2 separate regions of the Homo sapiens genome follow, and region 2 is linked to region 1. The links come from fine-mapping of genetic effects on gene expression. A gene starts in region 1. The other region holds a variant in brackets. All regions are shown on one strand. Distances are between the middles of the regions.

Region 1 (4,252 bases):
GTTCGAGGCTGGACCCGGGGTGAGGGTGCAGAGGGTGGGGGGGCTCCGAGCGCAGCAAGAGAGGTCGAGGCTAGACCCGGGGTGAGGGTGTGGGGGTTGTGGGGCGGGGTCCCCATGCAGCAGGAGAGGTCGAGGCTGGACCCGGGGCGCGGTGTAGGCGGGGTGGAGTGAGGGTGGGCCGGGGATCCCAGCGCCGCAGGAGGGACTGCGCTACACGGGGCCGACCTGTAGCAGCAGGAGGTCGTGGTCGATGGTGTCGGGCTGGCTGTCCGGGTGGGGCACTGCGCGGAGCACGTCGTACAGGCGCTTGGAGGGCTCCGGCTGCGACAGGGAGTGCGCGCCCAGGAGAACCTGCACCTTCCCGTCGGCCCTGGGGACCGGACGGAGTCCGCGGTCGGTGCCAGCCGACTCCCCCCACCGCACCCGGGCTCTTCCCCCGCGCGGCGCGGGCACTCACGCGTCCTCCAGGCAGTGCGCCGCGCTCAGCACCCACTGCTCCGCCACCAGGACGCCGCCGCACAGGTGCGCGCCGTTCAGCTGCACCGACGCCATGTAGGGCCGCGCGTGCGCCTCGGCCTCTCTGCCGCCCAGGATCCGACCACGGGGCGGCGCCGCTGTGGGTGGGCGGGCGCGTGAGGGCCGCGGGGTGGACTCCTCCCCCGGGCGAGGCTGCCTGACGGGATCCCAGCTCTCACCCCCCAGGCCGCTCCCCGCAAGAATCCCATCTCTGGGCGCGGTGGCTCACGCCTGTAATCCCAGCACTTTGTGAAGCCGCGCGGGGGCGGGGGGGGAGGGGGGGGTGCAGATCATGAGGTCAGGAGTTCAAGACCAGCCTGGCCAATATGGTGAAACCCCGTCTCTACTTTAAAAAAAAATACAAAATTTAGTCGGCGTGGCCTATAATCTCAGCTATTCGGAAGGCTGAGGCAGGAGAATCGCTTGAACCCGGGAGTCGGAGTTTGCAGTGAGCCGAGATCGCACCACTGCACTCCAGCCTGGACGACAGAGCGAGACTCCCTATCAAAAAAAAAAAGAAAGAAAAAAAAGAATCCCGTTTCCGTCTTGGGGCCCCTCAGCGTTGCAAACTCAGATACCCTCGGGCGGGAATGCCCCAGAGTACAGAACCCACAGTGGGCTGGGGACCGGGGGCAGATCCCAGCGCCCTACCCTGGGCGCAGTGCCTTCCAGTTGGACATAAGAGAAATGGGGCTGACCCAGCCAGTGCCTGGGCCAGCCCAGTCAGCCACGCAGATGAAGTTTTCCACGCAGACGTTCAGACTCTGTCTGCAAGAAAAGCTGACTCCAGAAAGTTCCGATTTCCAATCTGAATTTTCTAGAATTTTTCAGCGTTCAGAGCCTTCCATTAGTGAGGAGAGACACCCCCTTCCTGCCCACCTGGAGGGGCTGGAGGACCGTCCGTGTGACGGAAGGGAGCACCACGCCCCTACACAGCCCTGTCCCTCACCCCAGGCCCAGGCCTCCTCACCGCAGGCGGCCGCTCCTAGGAGGACCAGAACTGCCAGGCGCTCCCAGCTGTGCATGGTGAAGCCGCTGTGGCTGAGACACTGACCCAGGCAGGGCCCTGGGGGTGCTTTTATGAGGGTGGAGGGGGCGGGCCGCTCCCCGGGTGGGCAGCGGCCCAGCTGGGGAAAGGGGAACTCGCCCGCCCAGCCTCCGCCCTCCCCGGGACTGGGTTACCTCCTGCCAGACTCACACCAGAGTCGACAAGTCGCTGGGAGACCCTCGGGCCTCTGTGAGCCTGACAGCCTGCTGGCCCTGGTGGGGGGCAGTCCCTCAGATGGGCAGGAGGCAGAGAGGGGGGCTGCACCCACCCCGGCCCCAACTTCACCACACCCAGAGTCCCCCAGGGTGTTTCACAATCCTAGCTGGAGGCCACAGCGTGTAAACAACCCACTTTCTTGTCCTGCTACCCTCCCTTCTTTTCCTCCTCTATATTAGAGAGAAGGTCTGTTGGGGGTAGGAAGGTCACTTGACACCTTTGTCTCTGTCCCTGTGGCCTCTGGGGCTTGACACCCTGACGAATAGAAAGTTGGAAAGGCCAAGGCAGAGGCAGCTGGGAAGACTGGCTACAAGGGACAGGAAAACCCAGACAAACTGGGTGGAGCCTGAATCATGAAAGTTATATGGAAAGTTCAGGGATGTCCGCCTTCAGGTGTGGCTTGATCCAGGTGCCTGAACAATGTCCAGTGTCTGCTTCTGGCTTCTCCTTTCTTCTCTGATGGCTTCTTTCCTCACCAGCCTCCCCTGGTGTGTTTCCAGGGACCCCACACTCAACCCAGTGGCTCAGTGGGCCCCTCCTAAAATTCTTCCTCACTCCAGCCAAGTCTCAAGGGTGCCTTGGGTTGGTGGAGCCTGGATCACACGCCCCCTCCCAAACTGTTCACTGAGGGCAGGTTCTGATGAACAGAGTCAGGGCTGGCCGGGCACAGTGGCTCCCACCTACCATCCCGGCACATTGAGAGACCCAGATAGGAGCATCTCTTGAGCCCAGGAATTCAAGGCCAGCTTGGGGAAGACGGCGAGACCCCATCTCTACAAAAAAATTAAAATAAAATACTTCTCAGAATCTGGGCCATAGGGCCTTTTGTGAGGTGGGGATTTGTGTGTGTTGTTTTTGTTTTATTACAGACAGGGTCTTGCTCTTTCATCCAGGCTCGAGTGCAGCGGTGCAATCATAGCTCACTGCAGCCTCCTCGACCTCCGGGGCTCAAGTGATCCTCCCACCTCAGCCTCCAGAAGTGCTGGGACTGCAGGCCTGCTCATGGTGTAGCTCCATTTTTCACATCTGCCCCACAGGGGCCAGCGGGATTCACGTTGCATTAATCCATGGTGCGGGGACCAGAAGGATGGGGATACCTTGTGGGGAGGACCTCAGACATTGTCCCCAGGGGGAGCAGCACACGAGGTTCCCCCGGCTTTTCTCTTCACCATGGATCATTTCTTTCTTTTCTTTCCTTTTTTTTTTTTTTTTTGAGACGGAGTCTCGCTCTGTCGCCCAGGCTGGAGTGCAGTGGCGCGATCTCAGCTCACTGCAAGCTCCGCCTCCCGGGTTCACACCATTCTCCTGCCTCAGCCTCCGGAGTAGCTGGGACTACAGGCGTCCGCCACCACGCCCGGATAATTTTTTGTATTTTTAGTAGAGATGGGTTTCACCGTGTTAGCCAGGATGGTCTCGATCTCCCGACCTCGTGATCCGCCTGCCTCGGCCTCCCAAAGTGCTGAGATTACAGGTGTGAGCCACCACGCCTAGCCTCATTTCCTTCCTTCCTTTCTCTGTTTTTCTCTTTCTTTCCCTTTCTTTTTCTTTCTTTCTTTCTCTTTCCTTCTTTTTTTCTTTCTTTCTTGCTTTTTTTTTTTTTTTGCGACAGAGTCTTGCTCTGTCGTCCAGGCTGGAGTGCAGTGGCACAATCTCGGCTCACTGCGACCTCCACCTCCCGGGTTCAAGCGATTCTACTGCCTCAGCTTCCCGAGTAGCTGGGATTACACGCATGAGCAACCACACTGGGCTAACTTTTTGTATTTTTAGTAGAGACAGGGTTTTGCCATGTTGGCCAGGCTGGTCTCGAACCTCTGACCTCAGGTGATCCGCCCACCTCGGCCTCCCAAAGTGCTGGGATTACAGGCATGAGCCACCATGCCTGGCCCCCTGTGGATTATTTCATACGCACAGAGAATAGAAAATGATATAACAACAGGGCTGGGCGTGGTGGCTACGCCTGTAATCCCAGCACTTTGGGAGGTCAAGGCGGGCGGATCACGAGTTCAGGAGATCGAGACCATCCTGGCTAACACGGTGAAACCCCGTCTCTACTAAAAATACAAAAAATGAGCCGGGCGTGGTGGCGGGCGCCTGTAGTCCCAGCTACTCGGGAGGCTGAGGCAGGAGAATGGCGTGAACCCGGGAGGCGGAGCTTGCAGTGAGCCGAGATCGCGCCACTGCACTCCAGCCTGGGCGACAGAGCGAGACTCCATCTAAAAACAAAAAAGAAAAAAACACAATGTGGGGAAGTCACTTCTGCTCCATTGCCCTGGCTGTGCTGCCCCCTGGTGGTGGCTTACTCCAGAGATGCCCAAGAGACTCTGGATTCTAGTTTGTTGTTTATTATTATTATTATCATTATTATTTATATTTATTTATTTATTTATTTATTTATTTATTTATTTATTTATTTATTTTTGAGATGGAGTTTCGCTCTTGTTGCCCAGGCTGGAGTGCAATGGAGCGATCTTG
Region 2 (4,252 bases), 22 kb before region 1:
GACAGTCCCCACCGCACCCATCTCTCCCCCATCTCTCCCCCTACCGCCCCACGTGCCCACCATGCCAGGCTTTGGTCCCCGCCATGCCCAGCTCTTCACGCACCGCCCCACGTGCCCACCGTGCCAGGCTTCGGTCCCCGCCATGCCCAGCTCTTCACCCACCACCCCACGTGCCCACCGTGCCAGGCTTCGGTCCCCGCCATGCCCAGCTCTTCACCCACCGCCCCACGTGCCCACCATGCCAGGCTTCGGTCCCCGCCATGCCCAGCTCTTCACGCACCGCCCCACGTGCCCACCATGCCAGGCTTCGGTTCCTACCATGCCCAGCTCTTCACCCACTGCCCCACATCCCCACTTAGCAGCTTAGCTTCTCCCTGCCTCAAGTCCCCCCTCATTTAGGAATGCTGACCGCAGCCGTCAGTTGGATGGAGGAGGGGATGTAAATCGTGCTGTGAGGGTACCCTGGCCACTAGCTGGGGGTGTGGTCGTCATGGCAGCTGCCTCCCCCGGCGCTGGGGCGTTGAGTTTCCTGTCTTTCCTATGAGAGGCTCAATTCCATGAGGGCCAGCCACCCCTGACCACTGTGTGCCCTCTGGGCGTCTCAGCCACTCTCTGGGCCTGTTTCCCCCCAGGGAATGCTGCTCACAGGACCCCTATACGGGTTTGCAGGAGGTCAAGGCTCTGTGACCGTGATGGCCCGTCCGGGGCAGAGACCTCATGATGCGGGTGGCACAGAGCAGCTGCGTGGTAGTCAGCTTCAGCCGAGTAACAAGCCAGCCCCAAACTGAGCAGCTCAGGCCAGCAGCCCTGCACTGTTTCTGTTTCTGTGGCTGCCTCAGCTGCGCTCTCCTGGTTCCCACGTGTCTGCGGTTAGCAGCCGAGGTGGCGTGGCCTGTCCACTGGCCGCACATGCTCCAGCAGGCCGGCTCCAGCTGCCCTCCGTGTCCCACATGCAGCCACAGCAGGACCCCCCACACGTGCTCTCTGGGCCACTGTTTTTGTTTTTTGTTTTTGAGCTAGGCTCTTGCTGTGTTGCCCAGGCTGGAGTGCAGTGGCGTGATCTTGGCTCACTGCAGCCTCATCTTCCTGGGCTCGAGCAATCCTACCTCAGCCTCCTGAGTAGCTGGGACTACAGGCGTGTGCAGGCGTGCATCACCACCACACACAGCTAATGTTTACTGTGTTTTTTTTGTAGAGAATGGGGTCTTGCTGTGTTGTCCAGGCTGGTCTTGAACTCCTGGACTCAAGCCATCCTCTGGCGTTGGCTTCCCAAAGTCTTGGGGTGGCAGATGTGAGCTGCTGTGCCCGGCCATGTCACATTTGCTAAGGCTTGGCCTGAGATTCCCAGAAGTCTCTGCCCTGTTGGGAGGAGCTGCGTCTTCACGCAGGGGCTGTCAGGCAGCGGATCTGTGGGTGCGACCATCCCGCATGGCTTTATTGGAATTGTAGATGAGGAGGGATGGGAATCCCGGCTGAGCTGGCTAAGGCCGAGCGAGTGTTAGGGTTTGCATGGCTGCAGGTCTGAGGTGGCGCCGTCTCCCCACTGTCTGCCCCATCGGGGGTGAGATGGTGCCGGCCCACAGGTTTCCATGAAATCCCAGGGCCCACCTTGGGTCACGTGCCCATCCTGGAACCAATGAGTGGCCGAGGCACGAAGCGCTCGGATTGGCCGGGCCTGGTCTTCTGGGCATGGGAGCAGGGCGGCATGAGACCTGGGAAGGGCCCTGGGCAGGTTGCACACCAGGCCATGCTGGACTCCTGCGGCTGTCTCAGCCTGTCTTTACTCCATTGCCTTCCTGTTTTCCTGCCCCTGATTTTTCAGTTGGCGACAAACAGCCCACAATTCTCAAATGGCGGATCCTATCGGCCACCAACGATCTGGACCGTGTGTCGGCCGTGGCGCTGCCCAAGCTGCCCATCTCGCTCACCAACACCGACCTCAAGGTGGCCAGCGACACACAGTTCTACCCTGGCCTCGGTACGGTGGAGCCAGCGGCAGCCACGCGGGGCCTCAGTTCACACCAGGGGAGTTGGGCCCTGAGCACAGGCCACGGGGTCGTGGGAGCTCACACCAGAGGACGTGGGCTCTGAGCACAGGCCATGGGGCTGTAGGAGCTCAGCCT[T/C]CTGGGTTCTGATGGGTTCCCAATTAGGAGGCAGATCTCATCTTTCGGGATCTGTGAGGCTGGCAGACAGATCCAGTGTTCTTTAATATGTAAAGAGTCATTGCAAATCAACAAGGGAGCCTGGGGAACTTGGTGGAACTCCTTCCTGGGTAGGCGGCATGTGTCCTCTCTGTGCTGCAGCAGCCATAATGTGGTCCTGAGCTCAAACCGTGGCATCCGTGCCCATGAGTGAGTCTGCACACTCTTCAGTGCCTACCCTATTTGCTCAGCTGTAAAATGTGGACAAGTCGGCCCTAGCTCAGGCCCTTTCTTCCCCCAGCTCCCGTTCTTCCCTGGTTCCCTGGAAAGAGCATTTATCAAAACCCGCTCGGGGCTCAGGGCTGTTCCTCAGAGCCTGCAGAGAGGTTGAGGGGATGCAGTTCCCTGCTCCAAAACCCTTGGTTTATGCTCCATTTTCCAGGCTCTATTTTTTTTTTTCTTTTTTTTTTTGAGTTGGAGTCTCATTCTGTTGCCCAGGCTGGAGTGCAGTGGTGTGATCTCGGCTCACTGCAACCTCCGCCTCCTGGGTTCAAGCGATTCTCCTTCCTGCCTCAGCCTCCCGAGTAGCTGGGACTACAGGCGCGTGCTGCCACGCCCGGCTAATTTTTTGTATTTTAGTAGAGACGGGGTTTCACCGGTGTTGCCCAGGCTGGTCTCGAACCCCTGAGCTCAGGCAATCTGCCCGCCTCAGCCTCCCAAAGTGCTAGGATTACAGGCGTGAGCCACCGCGCCCGGCTTTGCAGCCTCTCTACTGCAGGGACTCCTTTCATATTCTCTTTTCCATGAGCTTTGGGCTCTGGACCCCACCTCCCCCCGGCCCTCGTACAATGGCAGACCCCAGTGTGAGTGACAGCCCCAGCCCACCACCCTAAGATGCCTCTCTTTGGGACGCCAGGAGCCCCAACCCTTGGTCCCCCACCTGTAGTGCCCCCCTCCCCTGCGCTCCTTGAGGGGCGTGTCAGCCAGGACATGGGCCCAGCTGGGAGGGGCGGGGAGGGGCTGGGAGCAGTGTGGCCAAGGCTGCTGGCTCCTGCTCCCCTGGTGCTCAGGGACTGTGTAACTAAAGAAAGAGTGGCTGGGGGCACGGGCGCTGGATGCCGATTGGCGGGGGCTGACCCCCTGGATGGGCAGCCCCGGCTCTCCACACCCTGCAGAGCAGGAGGCCCCTCCCCCGGCGGGCGTGTCCTGGGCCCTGCCCATGTCTAAGCAGTGCCTGTGCCCCACAGGGCTGGCCCTGGCCTTCCACGACGGCAGCGTCCACATCGTGCACCGGCTCTCACTGCAGACCATGGCCGTCTTCTACAGCTCCGCGGCCCCGAGGCCTGTGGATGAGCCGGCCATGAAGCGCCCCCGCACCGCGGGCCCCGCCGTCCACTTAAAGGCTATGCAGCTATCGTGGACGTCACTGGCCCTGGTGGGGATTGACAGCCACGGGAAGGTGAGCTGCTGGGGCACGTGGGGCCGGGGCTGGTGGGCATTGACAACCAGGGGAAGGCGAGCTGCTGGGCATTGACAACCAGGGGAAGGTGAGCTGCTGGGGCACGTGGGGCTGGCCCTGGTGGGGATTGACAGCCAGGGGAAGGCGAGCTGCTGGGGCACGTGGGGCTGGGGCTGGTGGGCATTGACAACCAGGGGAAGGCGAGCTGCTGGGCATTGACAACCAGGGGAAGGCGAGCTGCTGGGGCACGTGGGGCTGGGGCTGGTGGGCATTGACAACCAGGGGAACGTGAGCTGCTGGGGCACGTGGGGCTGGGCTTGGGGGGCATTGACAACCACGGGAAGGTGAGCTGCTGGGCATTGACAACCAGGGGAAGGCGAGCTGCTGGGGCGTGGCCCTGGTAGGCATTGACAACCAGGGAAAGGCGAGCTGCTGGGGCACGTGGGGCTGGGGCTGGTGGGCATTGACAACCAGGGGAAGGCGAGCTGCTGGGGCACGTGGGGCTGGGGTTGGTGGGCATTGACAACCAGGGAAAGGTGAGCTGCTGGGGCATGTGCGGCTGGGGCTGGTGGGCATTGACAACCAGGGGAAGGTGAGCTGCTGGGGCACGTGGGGCTGGGCTTGGTGGGCATTGACAACCATGGGAAGGTGA

Evidence for each region. PIP is the estimated chance that this variant, and not a neighbour inherited with it, causes the effect.
Region 2: its variant is fine-mapped to the expression of CFD in whole blood (TOPMed, PIP 0.99).

The regions. Positions count from the first base shown.
Region 1 is chr19:856,979-861,230 of GRCh38, reverse strand. CFD (complement factor D) reads right to left here and starts at 1,567. Exons shown (of 5, transcript NM_001928.4): 1 at 1,487-1,567; 2 at 458-614; 3 at 226-370. The coding sequence starts at 1,541.
Region 2 is chr19:879,285-883,536 of GRCh38, reverse strand. MED16 (mediator complex subunit 16) reads left to right here. Exons shown (of 16, transcript NM_005481.3): 7 at 1,823-1,978; 8 at 3,389-3,600. Among named protein-coding and RNA genes, the nearest start is that of MED16, 12 kb to the left of the region's middle. The variant T/C (reference allele first, on the strand shown) is at 2,124.